Regions from separate parts of the Homo sapiens genome. Here all the other regions are reported to be linked to region 3. The links are microRNA targets in miRTarBase. Many come from high-throughput screens and were not tested one by one. Region 3 holds a microRNA gene; each other region holds the end of a gene's coding sequence.
The links. The annotated mature microRNA hsa-miR-1184 reads CCUGCAGCGACUUGAUGGCUUCC and lies in region 3 at 2,021-2,043, opposite strand. An mRNA with a match to its seed (bases 2 to 7 or 8) in the 3' UTR can be bound and repressed. Matches are read on the target gene's strand: a 7mer-m8 pairs with bases 2 to 8, a 7mer-A1 pairs with bases 2 to 7 and ends in A, and an 8mer does both.

Region 1 (3,893 bases), not on the chromosome of region 3:
GGGCAGCCACTGGCTTCAGGTTCGCCTCCTACTCCATTGCCTCCATAATTACAAGATGCTCTTAGCCTGACTCCCACGGACTCCCATCACCCAGCGCTCGGCTCTCTCGGTGGGGAGGGCAGAGAATGTTTCACTGTCCCTCTGTCTTCTGTGGCATCCTTTGCCTTGCAGCCACAGCCCAGCTAGCCCAGGCCAAGGGAGTCCGACCCCCACCCCGAAGCACAGGGAAGTTGCTGCCCTTTCCCGCAGTGACAGGAATCCTCTCAAAGGTTCTGGAAGGCAAGGATGCGGCCATCCCTGGAGACGCCAAGGTCAGGGAGCCCTGGGGGAAGGGGGAGGGAGGGCTTGCGTCTGTTGCAGGTCCCAGGCAAAGGGGCTGCTTTCCACTCCCGAGGGGGGTGGGTTGGTGGCGGCGGAAGGAGGCTAGGAGGGTGCAGCGCTACAGACCACAGTGAGGGAGTGGGGATGACGCTAGTGCGCCCGGGACCGGGGCCGCCGGGTTCGATGCCCGGGCTGAGGGGTCCCTCGCAGAAGGTGCGGGACGGGGAAGCCCCTGCGCCGGGCTGCCCCGGGTCAGGAAGGAGTTGCCGGGTCGTGCAAGGTGAAGGAAGCCTTAGGGGCGAGTGGCTGGGGGCAGGTTCCCGAGGGCAAGAACTCTCCGACCTTCAGGGCGCTGCGGGGCGACCCCGCTCAGGGTTCAGTCCGAGAACCCAAAGGTTGGTGGCTCCCGGGCATCACTCGCTCCCACTCGGCCGGGCCCGGCCGCCCCTCGCCCCGGCCCTCCCCTCCCGCTGACCTCTCACGACGTCCAGGGCGAGGGCCACCAGGAGGCAGAGCCAGGGGCCGTAGGGCCCCCGAGGGGCCGCTGTTGTGCGACCGGCCATCCGCGCGCACATCCTTCCCACAGAAGGCGGGGACGAGGCGGGCGGCTCAGGTGGCCCCAGTCCCGCACGGCATCTCCCGCACCCGCTCCGCGCCGTCCCCACCTGGCCCGCTGGGTCCCGGCCGCCGCCGCCGCCGCCGCCGCCCGCCCCGCGGCTGCAATTCCCAGACAATGGAGCGGGAGCAGTGGGGTGGGAGGGAGCGAATCGCAGCACATGGGCTGCCCCCTCCGCCCCGCCGGGTCCTAGTGCCCTACGGATCCCCAATCCCTGCGCGCTCAGGCGACCGAGGTCGGGAAGAGGGCCACGTCCCTGGAAGCAACAGAGGACGGCCGCCTCTGCCAGGAGGGACTCGGTGAGTTCTGTGTGGCTCCCTCACGGAAGCTTCTGATCAGGGAAGAAAAAGCCACTTTCTCTGCCTCACCCACCCCCACAAGCAGCTCACTTGTGAAGGCATCTGACACCTGAGTCAGAACCAGAATTCAGGGACACATGGGACGGGAGCTGCAGGGACAGGAAAGGAGGGAGGGGGTCAAACGGGGCCAGATGCCAACCACCTGAGCCTGCCCTGACAGAGCTAGGCCACCGCCGTGGAGGAAGGGCTCTAGGTGCAGGCAGCTCTAGTCTCTTGACCAGCTCCACCTGGGCAGCGTCCTGCAGCGCTTAGGAGGGTTGAGGGTTGCCCAACACTCCCGAGGGAAGGCCAGCCTCAAGGGTCCTGACCCAGTGTTGCCTACCAGGCAGTTTGGGGAGAGGCCCAGAGCAGGGGCCCCAGCTGCACACTCTCATGCCCTGGGCAGCTTACAAAGAAAAAATTATGTCTGAGGCCCTCCGCAAAATTGGTCCAGCCTGTGGGCCGACTGGAAACCTTGGCACAGGAAAGTCCTCAGGTGGGTGGTGAAGGGGAGGGCAGGCAAGTCTTCTCCAGGCTGCCCACCCACCTCAGCACACTGCAGGGAAGGGGTGACCCCTCTGCCCAGCAAGCACACGCATTTCCAGCAGTGCCAGTCGTTCCTACGTTTTGTAATGGGGGCATGCTTTCCTAATTCCTTGTGCTCCTGGAGGGAAGGGTACCTGGTACCAGCCTGCCTTTTCAGCTCTCCCCTCTGCCAGCTTCACACTGCCCCCACAGGGAGAAATTGGGAGGCGGAGCTGCACTACAGAAATGGGTTTAGCAGTAGAGGAGACATGGAAGCAATCCAGACTTGGAGTAAATACATTTTATTCAGAACAAGATAATAAAATAGCGTGCACTTTATTTAAAACCAACCAAGCACTGATAAAAAATATATATCACTGCAGCTGTGATTCCACATCAAACCTGAACAGTAAGAATTGGGCATTTATTCTTCACATCATGTGCCAAGCCTGGCAGAGAAGGACATCCACCTCCACTAGAGCCTCAAAGGAAAAGTGGCCCCTAACCACCAAGACAGGGTACCCTGGTGGAGAGGGGCAGCTGGCAGCTCACCCTGCTCTCTGCAGACCACGTGAAGGGAAAGGAGCTGCCTGTGTTCCTCCCGGGCTGCCGGGGTGGGCACTGGTCAGCAACTCCTTCTCGGTTTCAGGTTGTGGAGCGATGGGGAGAGAAGTGCATGCAGTTGTGCAGACAAGGAGGCGGGTCCTCCCTCCTCTTTCAGGGTCTCTGAAACCCCCACAGGGCATATAATGCCCAGCAAGGTCCCACTTGCAGGCACATGCCTACAAAGCAGCAGCCATCTTTTGCTTTGGCTGATGGGGAATCAAGATTCTGAGAGTGACTGCTCTTTTCTTGACACAAAGCAGCCACAGAACACTTTCCTACATACAGTATGGCAGCAGGCAAGCAGAAGGCCCTGCTGGCTCGGATTAAGGCACTTGAAAGAGACACAAGGTACATCCTCCTCCCCTGCAGCCCCCACAGGCCTCAGGGGACCCTGTTTCCCCACCCTTTATCCTCAGGTCCCCTTACCCCTGCCCCTCCCTACTGCTGGGCAATGAGGAGGACAGGAGCGTGCCTTAAAGGACCATGGTTTGGTGGGAGTACAGGGTAGGAGGATGAGGAAAACAAGAAGGGAGCTGGAGATTTGGCCAAGGAGCAACTTCAGAAGGACAGGAGAGCACGAGCATTAGGAGGAAGCCAAGGCAGCAGCAGAGGGAAGCCAGTTAAGTCATGAGAGACCAACGGCAGTGATGTTTGCTGGCGCAGATGCAGAAGCCAGAGGGAGGCCCCTCCAACCTTCCCTGGTGAGGCAGGCTGGGAGCAGAGAAAGGGTTAAGAGAGCCAACCCCAGACAGAGAACCTCAGAAGACAGGGCCGCAAGGACAGGCAGGGGGAATGGTCTTTCTCTGTTTCTCTTGGCTAGTGGGGCTGCGGCAAGGATCAATGTTCTGAAGGTTCAGAGACAGGGCAAGAAAAGGGCAGGGGGCTGGCAGGAGGGCTGCATGGCCCCGAAGCAGCTCAGCTCTTTGGTATGACACTGGCGGTGTGTGGGGCATCCGGCTCACTCCTCCTCCACACTGCGGGCCCCCTTGGCCGCTCGCCTCTGGCGCCAGCGCAGCTCCTCCACCTGGCGTTCCAGCCCTCGCACCTTGGCCTCGAGTTGGGCCCCAGAGGCTCGGGAGCCAGTGAGCCGGCTCAGCAGGGCGTAGAGGATCAGCAAGGCCAGGAGTAGCAGGGCCCGGGTGGAAGGGTCAGGCACCGACCTCATCAGGGCCACGAAGCCGGCCAGGAAGATGACAAGCTTCAGGCCCCACAGGATCCGCCCCAGCAAGGCCAAGACCAAGCCGAGGAGCAGAGACAGCAGCCAGTAGACGACCAGGGCCCCTGCTCCCCACAGCAGGAAGGTCTGGACCTGGCCAGGGCTGAGCTTCAGGCCCTGGGCGAGGTAATCACCTGGAAGCCAAGAGAGTCACAGAGTCAGCCAACCTGGAGAAGTGGTGAGGGGAGAGCGGGGCAAGAGCTAAAAGGGTGGGAGGTGCTAGGCACATTGCAAAGGAATAAGCCGTTCTCGCAGACTCAGAGTGATATGG
Region 2 (3,893 bases), not on the chromosome of region 3:
ACAGCACCCCAGATCCTGTGGTGGGTAGAAAGCAGCAGGATCAATAAACTTAATTTTACTAGGATTCAGTAAAGGGTACAAAAGACAGGACTGTGCTTTCTACCCCCCAGGCTGCTCCTCATTTTTCCCTCCTCAATCTCTCTCAAACCCCAGTTCATCATTTTTTCTTCCTCCACAGGATACCCCATTCTGAGGAACAAAATTGAATTTAAGCGGCCAGGGAAGGCTGCTAACAAGGACAACTGGAATAAATTCCTTATGGCCATCAAGGTTAGAGAGGAGGACTTGGAGAATGAAGGCAGAGAGGGCAGCACTAAAAAAAGAAAAAAAAACAAGTCTGGGTGCAGTGGCTCATACCTTTAATCCCAGCACTTTGGGAGGCCAAGGTGGGCGGATCACCTGAGGTCAGGAGTTTGAGACCAGCCTGGCCAACATGGTTAAAACCTCGTCTCTACTAAAAATACAAAAGTTAGCCGGGTCTGGTGGCGTGCACCTGTAATCCCAGCTACTCAGGAGGCTGAGGCAGGAGAATCGCTTAAACCCGAGAGGCAGAGGTTGCAGTGAGCTGAGATTGTGCCACTGCACTCCAGCCTGGGCGACAAAGCAAGACTTTGTCTCAAAACAAACAAAAAACCCACATACACACTAGAAAGATGGGTGGGATTACAGGAAGGCAGATGCAGACCCTGAAGCCTGCGATGGAGCTGATTTTGTATTTCCAGCATTAACAAGTTCCTCTCATGTTCTTCCATTTGCTCACAGACCTCCCACAGCCCAGTGTGCCAGGACGTGCTGAAATTCATCAGTCAGTGGTGTGGAGGGCTCCCCAGCACCAGCTTTTCCTTTCAGTAGTTGGTAGAGCTGAGGAAGAGTTAGGGCCTCTCCCTCATTAAAGTTTTATAAATAATTGAGACCACTGTATTCTTTGATCAAAGTCATTCCCAACACCACACAGTGCCTTTTCCCCAAAAGGAATCATAATCAAGTAGAAGAAAAGAGAAGTTACTTTATTACAATTTGTTATCTCATCCCGAGGTCAGGGCCCCTTGCTTAGTGGGAAAAAAAACCCTTTAGGACTGAGTCTCGGAACAGCACCTGCTGGACAGAGGGGAGAACCAACCCAGGTCAGAGGGGAAAGCAGCATGGCAAGACCTAGACCCAGTTCTAAGAGCACTTCCTTGTCCCCGCTCTTACCCGGGCCACCACCTTCAAGGCCCATTACCTGTCCTAAACCCAACTTCTCTGTGATGCCCGGATTTCTTGATTTTGATCCAGTAGCTGCTCATTTTCCTGCCTTTTACATTTAGGAGATTCAAGCTCTGTCATTTCCTCTAGCTGCAGAAGAAGATAGAGTTAGACACCCTCGCCCTGAATGATAGGTCAGCATCTTTTTTTTGTTTTGTTTTTTGTGACGGAGCCTCACTCTGTTGCCCAGGCTGGAGTGCAGTGGCGTGATCTCGGTTCACTGCAACCTCCGCCTTCCGGGTTCAAGCGATTCTCCTGCCTCAGCCTTCCAAGTAGCTGGGATTACAGGCGCCCACCACCCCACCTAATTTTTTGTATTTTTAGTAGAGACGAGGTTTCACCATGTTGTCCAAGCTGGTCTCAAACTCCTGACCTCAAGTGATCCGCCTGCCTCAGCCTCCCAAAGTGCTGGGATTACAGGTGTGAGCCTCCGCACCCGGCCGGTCAGCATCTTTTCAACACAGCCAGTCTCTGTGGAATGAACCCTTCCTGTTTGCCTTCCTTACCTGCCCCTGAAGTCCGTCCTTCCTGCAGGGCCCAACTCCACGTAGAGTGAGTGCAGCCACACAGCAGTAACCAGATAGAGCAGCCTCCCCTGCAGACATGAGCAAAGAAGGGATCCAGAGAGCCAAGGCTGTATCCTGAAAAGCAAGAAGGATGGGGAGTAGGAGGGAGTAGGGCAAGTGCAGCAAATAGGGGAAATTAAAAGGGCAGGACCAAGGCTTTGTAGACCACAAGAAGGAAGAGAATGTGCTCACATAGATTCTTGTGGGGTCAAAGGGGCAGTCAGTATGTCCCGGCCCCTCATCCAGTGGTACCAGAGGATCCAGCAGTCCTGGGTGGCAGTCAGCAATAAGGCGGCGGCCACCGTTGGCCACAGTGAGTGACACAGCAAGAAGGAGGCCCAGGGAGCAGGCAACGGACAAGAGCAGGTTCACCAGAGCTAGTGCCAGCAGGACCCAGTGCTGGCAGGGACAGGAGATCAGGGTGAGCAGCCTGGGCCTGGCTAACTCTCCCAGTGACTAGACACCCAGTTTCTCTGAGGCTCCTCCAATCTATTGAAAGACCAAGCTCAGTCAGCCCCCATTTCCCTGACTCAAGCCTACTCGTTAAAAGCTCCAGGGAAGTCCCTCTCACCAGTGGAGGGCGAAGAAGGTTCCTGGACGCCAGGAGGGCCACAAGTCCCACGGAAACGCTCTGTGGAAGACACAAAGCCTTTGGCCTGCTGGGCTCTCCGGGAGCCCGGCCCCCGCCCGGGTCGCCTGCCGCGCTCACCAGCAGCCCCGAGCCGACAGAGATGACATTGGCTACGGTGTACTCCGGCGTGACAGCGCCGCGGGGATTGGCCACGTGCCGCAGGACGGTGCCATGCAGCACGGCCCCCAGCAGCAGGTTCACGTGGCCCACCAAGATCAGCGCGAGGCCCACACGCATCAGCCGCCTGGGCCCCCGGGCGGCGTCTGCAAAGCACGGGGGAGGGCAGGGTTGAGTCGGGCGGGGAGGGGAGAGGCGGCTCGCGGCGGGTTAACCGCGGGCAGTAGGACGGGGCAAGGGTAGCCCCAGGGTAAGGAGACGAGACGCCAGGGCCCGGAAGTTACCGAAAGCGCAGAGACTGCAGCGCCTCATCCCGTCCGCCGCGCCAGCCGCAGGGCCGCTGTACCTGGGCCCGGCCCCGCCCCAACCTGGGCCCCGCCTCCGTCCCGGGTCCCCCTCCCACCTGGGCCCCGCCTCCGCCCCGGGCCCGCTCCCCCTGGCGGGAAAGGCGCGAACACACGACGCTTTTAGCAAAAAGTAGACTTTTATTACAGCAGCAACTGAGGCGAATCGAATGGCCCCCCAGGGCCACCACTGCAGCACCACCTTTCTCTCCCGCCCCGGCCGCCCCAGCGGGATTGTAGAATTCGGCTCCCCTAGTGCCCGTGGGCCTCCTTTCCACACAGGCTGGGCGGGAGCCGGCAGATCAGCGACTAGCCCCCAACTAGAAGGCGGCTGCTGAGAAGGCCCAGGCCCACGTCTGTGCAAAACAAGTAAACAAAGTGCAGAGGGGAGGAAGAGAGGGGAGGGGAAAGGATGATGCTCAGAACCAGGGAGCCCCCCCAGCCCTCCTGAATAATAAAGGAGGGAAGGGGCTTCACAGGGTAATACTGACTGGGGGGAAGGGACAGGAGGGCTGCAGCACGTCCAGGGACAGCCACAGCGCAGATCAGGGCCTGGCCCGAGTGAGCTCTAAGAGGAGACGGTGACAGCGGCTGAGTTGAGGGTACTGTTCCTGGCAAAATTGAACTTGTTCAAGGTCTCTTCTAGCAGAGAAGTCAACCGGCTCTGGTCAGCCTGGGGGAGAAGAGCTCAGTAAGATGGGGGCTGAGAGAAGAGAAGGCATGGGGGCAGCCAGGGCAGATGAAGGCAGAAACCTCACCTCACTAATGAAGCCCAGCTGCACCAGCTCAGCCGCCAACTCGGGGATATTCTCATCTGACAAAGAAACAGGAGGGGGTGAGTACAGTACGGGACTGAGGGACCTGGGGCCCTTCAGACAGCCCCACTAGGGCTAAACTGTCAGTCAGATCCACCCACTGCTTTAGGGTCTAAGATAGTCATTCTATGTGAGTCAATGTGTTACTGCCTTGTCACCTCCCCCACCCCTGAAT
Region 3 (5,058 bases):
CACGACCACCATCTCTCAAGTGGCCCCTGGCGAGGACTAGCTTCTGACACCCGGCCCCTGGGACCTGACAGGTCCACTCGTCCACCCACCCGGCCCCAAATCCCCCGGCCTGAACCCCCGGCCTTAAACACCCTCCCCCCACAACCCAGGCCCCAAAGTCTTGGGCCTTCATTAATTCTGTCAATAAAATGTTTCAAGGAAGCCATCTGCCCGCTTCAGTCACTTTGCCTTGGGGTGGGGGTGGGGGGGCGGTGAGATGGGTTGGGGGGTTGTGAGACCTCCACAGCTGGAGGGATGGAGAGGTGGTGGGGGTCTGGGGTTGGGTGGGAGCCAGGGATGGCACAGAGGAGCCGTCTCTCCGGGTGACAGTGCAGGGGAGTGGCCCTGGGTGGGAAGGGGACACCCCCGCTGGTTCTGAGCAAGTCAGGGCCTGCCCGGGAAAGTCCTCAGCATGATGGTGTTCGTTGGGGCGGGTGGGCCTCAAGACCATGACTGCAGTGTTGCGACAGGACGGACTTCTAAGGCAACCGGGGTGGGGACGGAGAGGTGGACCCGGTGCTTGGCAAGGGGCCCTGGACCGGAAGACGGAGGACTGAGTAGTCGGGGCGGGGGGGGGGGGGGGGACAACAGTCCAGAAATGCGCAGACATGGAATTAGGGTCACGAGTTTCCTTTGGGTCATGTTCAGATGGAGAGGCTGTGGGATGCCTTTAGCAACCTAGACCACTTGCATTGCAGCCGAGCTAGCAGCAGCTGGTGCCCCGCCAGGCCCCGCGTACCTTCCCAGGGTCTTGGATCCGCATCCCCGAGACCCTCGATTTGCATACGCCGCTCACAGCCCGGCCAGGCCCCGCCTCCGATCCCGCTCTTTGCACCTCACCAGGGCAAGGGGCAGGCTCGGGCTGGGGAGCCGGCGCGGGCACGGCGGCAGCCCGCCGAGGGGGACGCAGGGCACGTCGCCCCGCCCCGGCCCGCCCGCCAGCTGCGGCGGCGCGTCGGGAAGTGCTTGGGGCGGCGAGCATGGCGGCAGCGGCTGCAGGCCTGGGCGGCGGCGGCGCCGGCCCGGGACCCGAGGCCGGGGACTTCCTGGCCCGCTACCGGCTGGTATCGAACAAGCTGAAGAAGCGGTTCCTGCGGAAGCCGAACGTGGCGGAGGCCGGCGAGCAGTTCGGACAGCTGGGCCGGGAGCTGCGCGCCCAGGAGTGTCTGCCCTACGCGGCCTGGTGCCAGCTGGCGGTGGCGCGCTGCCAGCAGGCGCTCTTCCACGGGCCCGGGGAGGCGCTGGCCCTCACCGAGGCCGCCCGCCTCTTCCTGCGGCAGGAGCGCGACGCGCGCCAGCGCCTGGTCTGCCCCGCCGCCTACGGGGAGCCGCTGCAGGCCGCCGCCAGCGCCCTGGGCGCCGCGGTGCGTCTGCACCTCGAGCTGGGCCAGCCGGCCGCCGCCGCCGCCCTCTGCCTCGAGCTGGCCGCCGCCCTGCGCGACCTGGGCCAGCCGGCCGCCGCCGCCGGTCACTTCCAGCGCGCCGCCCAGCTCCAGCTGCCCCAGCTGCCCCTGGCCGCGCTGCAGGCGCTTGGCGAGGCCGCCTCCTGCCAGCTGCTGGCGCGCGACTACACCGGCGCCCTGGCGGTCTTCACGCGCATGCAGCGCCTGGCGCGGGAGCACGGCAGCCACCCGGTGCAGTCACTGCCGCCGCCCCCGCCGCCGGCACCCCAGCCCGGGCCCGGGGCGACGCCCGCCCTACCGGCCGCGCTGCTTCCTCCGAACTCCGGCTCGGCGGCGCCCTCTCCCGCCGCCCTGGGCGCCTTCTCGGACGTGCTGGTCCGCTGCGAGGTGTCCCGCGTGCTGCTGCTGCTCCTCCTGCAACCACCGCCCGCCAAGCTGCTGCCGGAGCACGCCCAGACCCTGGAGAAGTACTCCTGGGAGGCTTTTGACAGCCACGGGCAGGAGAGCAGCGGCCAGCTTCCCGAGGAGCTCTTTCTGCTGCTCCAGTCTTTGGTCATGGCTACCCACGAAAAGGACACGGAAGCCATCAAGTCGCTGCAGGTGGAGATGTGGCCACTGTTGACTGCTGAGCAGAACCACCTCCTTCACCTCGTTCTGCAAGAAACCATCTCCCCCTCAGGACAGGGAGTCTGATCCATCCCATTCACCCAGTGACTTCTTTTTGCCCAGGCCGGGACTTTTTGCATCAGTCACGTTAACCAGATGACTTTGCCTGTTACCAAACCTCATGCATCCACGTTTGCGTCTGGGGAGGAATAAAAAGACATCGTTCCCGCTTCTGCGTTTTGTTATTCCTACTGCCGCCATAGGAATTATTTCGTTGGCTGAACGTTACCAGCACCCCGAGAACACATTTTGATAGAATCAGAGTAGAGGACATGGCTGTCTTCTAAAAAGCCACGACATGAAAATGACAATCCCTTTCGTCTCCTTCCTCCGCTGCTTCCACCCAACGCAGCCTCCTGCCTCCGCCTTTGTTTCATAGTGAGGATTTTATTTTGCACGGCGCCCTCCCTCTAAATACCTACCCTAGATGATTTCATCCTGCCCCTCACTTCTTAACATATTCCTGTGTCTTTGTAATGGCCAAATTTCTCCTTCCACTCGTCCGCACGGTACGTCTTCATGGGAGTCATTTTATTCCTTACAGCTTCCTTGTAACCACAGCCCTAAATCCATGATAAAGCTACTCTTGTACTCCTCATGTGTGGTTTTGGTGTCCGTCGTCTATAAAATGTGACTCTCTTACCTACTTGTCAGGAGGCCAGCAGCAGAACCAGATAGCTGTTTGGGCTCCAGGATGTATTCGTTCCTTTGAAATTTGCGCTATGCCTCCTATGTGGGCAACGAACCTGCAGAGATCATCTATGATGTGCTCCGTACTCGGGTGACTGCAATGCAGATACATCCAGTGCAGCGGGTCTGGTGCCGATGCATCGATTTGCATTGGAATTCACGGTTCTGGTTCCATTCGCAGAGGTATATGCAGTCTGGATCACAACAGCTTTTATTTGTAATAGGGATTTTTTTTTTTTTTTTTTTTTCCCCCCCCGAGATGGAGTCTCACTCTGTCGCCCAGGCAGGAGCGCAGTGGCGTGATCTCGGCTCACTGCAACCTCCGCCTCCTGGGTTCAAGCGATTCTCCTACCTCAACCTCCAGGGTGCCTGGGATTACAGGCGTGCACCACCACGCTGGGCTAATTTTTGTATTTTTAATAGAGATGGGGTCTCACCATGTTGGCCAAGCTGGTCTCCAACTCCTGACCTCAAATGATCCACCCTCCTCGGCCTCCCAAAGTGCTGGGATTACAGGCATGAGCCACCACGCCTGGCCTGTAATAGGGATTTTGCTGCAACTTTTAGTTAAGTAGGTGAAATCAGAGTGCGTGGCCCTTTGGTGTTGCGCGATCACGTGACTGCAAGGCAGCCTCCGTGTTCCCCCAAAGCAGGATGGCGTTCCGTTTGAGAACACTTAAGTTTCCAAGGCTTTCTGCCTCAAATGGAGCATGCCCCCCAACTACGCTGTTTTCTTATTTATTGCGTCTTTTTAATCCTTTTGATGGTGACAACAAGAACTCTTCAGAATATAGCCTCTTTCTCAAACTTTCAACCCTGGGGAAATGCATCCTTTGGGCCGAAGTTGCACACAATCCTGATCTTCGGGGCTGAGATGTAAGGACACAGTTTGGAGTAGGTGTTTTTGTTTTGCGTCTTTTTGCAGGGGAGAGGTGTGGAGGGTTGTCACTGTGAGTTGAGTGCCTCCAAATGGGTGGGACTTGTAGGGTGTTCTTTTCTGCTTCTATTTCTATTTCGACAGTGTGGAAGTAATGGGAAGCACAGGAGAGGCCCATTCCACCATCATTCCTCTTTCTCTCACTTGGCTGCCAGGAAGGGTCCTACGGAGCCCTGAACGCCTAGCCCAAATTATTGTAAAAGCGGTTGAAGGGCTCATGCTCTTTTGCTCTTTGGCTCTTTCCTGGTATGCTCCTCTTAACCCGGGCTGCAGACCTGGCCGGCTGGCTTCTTGTCAGGTTCAGGAGTTACGGAGCATGACTGGTGACCAGTTTGGGATTTGGGCTTCAGGAGAAGCCTCCTTAGGCCTCTGGTCCAAACTCCTTGCGTCAGGGAGGTGAGGGGAAGGATAACCAGACGGTCAGGTAGTGGGTATCTGAGCATAATTCTAGGAAACACTAAAACTCCTCGTTTTCCATTTGCCGTGGGCTCATTCATGTATCTCCCTCAGAAGCTTAAGAGCAGTGATAACTGGGCCGAGGCCAGATTTCAGCAGTTTTGAGAATTCCCTCGTAATGTATCACATCAGTATCAAAAGTCAACACTGATTTCTAGCATGCCAAAAGCAAATACTTTCAGAGGACATGATTAGTTTGCTTTTTAACTTGAAAACAATTCCAAATTCACACTTAAAACAGTGTAAACCGTCGGAAATGGTGGCAGCGAAGCAGTGAACCCTTAAAGGCTGTTGGGGTTCCCCTTCTCCCCATTGTGAGGTACTCCCAAAAGGATAAATGTTGCTTATGAAAGAATATTTTATACGTGAATAGTACAAAGACAAAGACGTTTGAGAACCGCTACGCCGGAGGAAGGTGGTCAAGACTGAAATTAGCGTGTTAGGCAAGATCTGGTTCCTAGGTGCTGAGGATTCTGGTGCCAAGGATTAATGTTAACCGTGCAGGCATCTCTACCACCGTTAGAGGAGACCAGCAGCCCACAGACTCTTTCTGTCAAGGGCGGGATAGAAATGTGTTAGTCTTTACAGACCACAGGTGGTCTCTGTTGCACAGTCTTCTTTGTTTCTTTGTATGTTTGTCTTTGCAATCCTTTCAACGTGTAAAAACTATTCTTAACTCACAGTCCGTACAAAAGCAGGCTATGGGCCAAATTCTGGGGCTATAGTTTGCCCACCCCTGAATTAGAACCCAGGACATAGTAGTTGCTCAATAACTGTTTAATTTTTTTTTATTTCAATAACTTTTGGCTTACAAGTGCTTTTTGGTTAAATGGATGAATTATATAGTGGTAAATTCTGAGATTTTAG

Region 1: the mRNA of TMEM109 is a reported target of hsa-miR-1184. Seed matches in the 3' UTR shown: 7mer-m8 at 2,770-2,776, 7mer-A1 at 2,360-2,366 and 7mer-m8 at 2,178-2,184.
Region 2: miRTarBase lists NRBP1 as a target of hsa-miR-1184. Seed matches in the 3' UTR shown: 7mer-m8 at 3,416-3,422 and 7mer-m8 at 3,094-3,100.

What each region holds. Positions count from the first base shown.
Region 1 is chr11:60,921,637-60,925,529 of GRCh38, reverse strand. TMEM109 (transmembrane protein 109) reads right to left here. Exons shown (of 4, transcript NM_024092.3): 4 at 2,087-3,756. The coding sequence ends at 3,365. TMEM132A (transmembrane protein 132A) reads right to left here and starts at 1,070. Exons shown (of 11, transcript NM_178031.3): 1 at 797-1,070. The coding sequence starts at 896. LOC124902676 (a long non-coding RNA gene) reads left to right here and starts at 133. Exons shown (of 2, transcript XR_007062688.1): 1 at 133-311. RefSeq lists silencers at 425-494, 535-754, 815-1,174.
Region 2 is chr2:27,441,391-27,445,283 of GRCh38, reverse strand. It overlaps NRBP1 (nuclear receptor binding protein 1), which reads right to left. Exons shown (of 18, transcript NM_013392.4): 17 at 3,662-3,717; 18 at 3,025-3,576. The coding sequence ends at 3,472. KRTCAP3 (keratinocyte associated protein 3) reads right to left here and starts at 2,903. Exons shown (of 7, transcript NM_173853.4): 1 at 2,844-2,903; 2 at 2,521-2,705; 3 at 2,383-2,442; 4 at 2,004-2,210; 5 at 1,752-1,886; 6 at 1,223-1,335; 7 at 987-1,098. The coding sequence starts at 2,871. The coding sequence ends at 1,228. IFT172 (intraflagellar transport 172) reads left to right here. Exons shown (of 48, transcript NM_015662.3): 47 at 179-270; 48 at 763-907. The coding sequence ends at 852. RefSeq lists an enhancer at 2,226-2,768.
Region 3 is chrX:155,454,562-155,459,619 of GRCh38, reverse strand. It overlaps MIR1184-3 (microRNA 1184-3), which reads right to left and starts at 2,103; the gene lies at 2,005-2,103. F8A3 (coagulation factor VIII associated 3) reads left to right here and starts at 1,000. Exons shown (of 1, transcript NM_001007524.2): 1 at 1,000-2,706. The coding sequence starts at 1,020. The coding sequence ends at 2,135. H2AB3 (H2A.B variant histone 3) reads left to right here. Exons shown (of 1, transcript NM_080720.3): 1 at 1-205. The coding sequence ends at 40.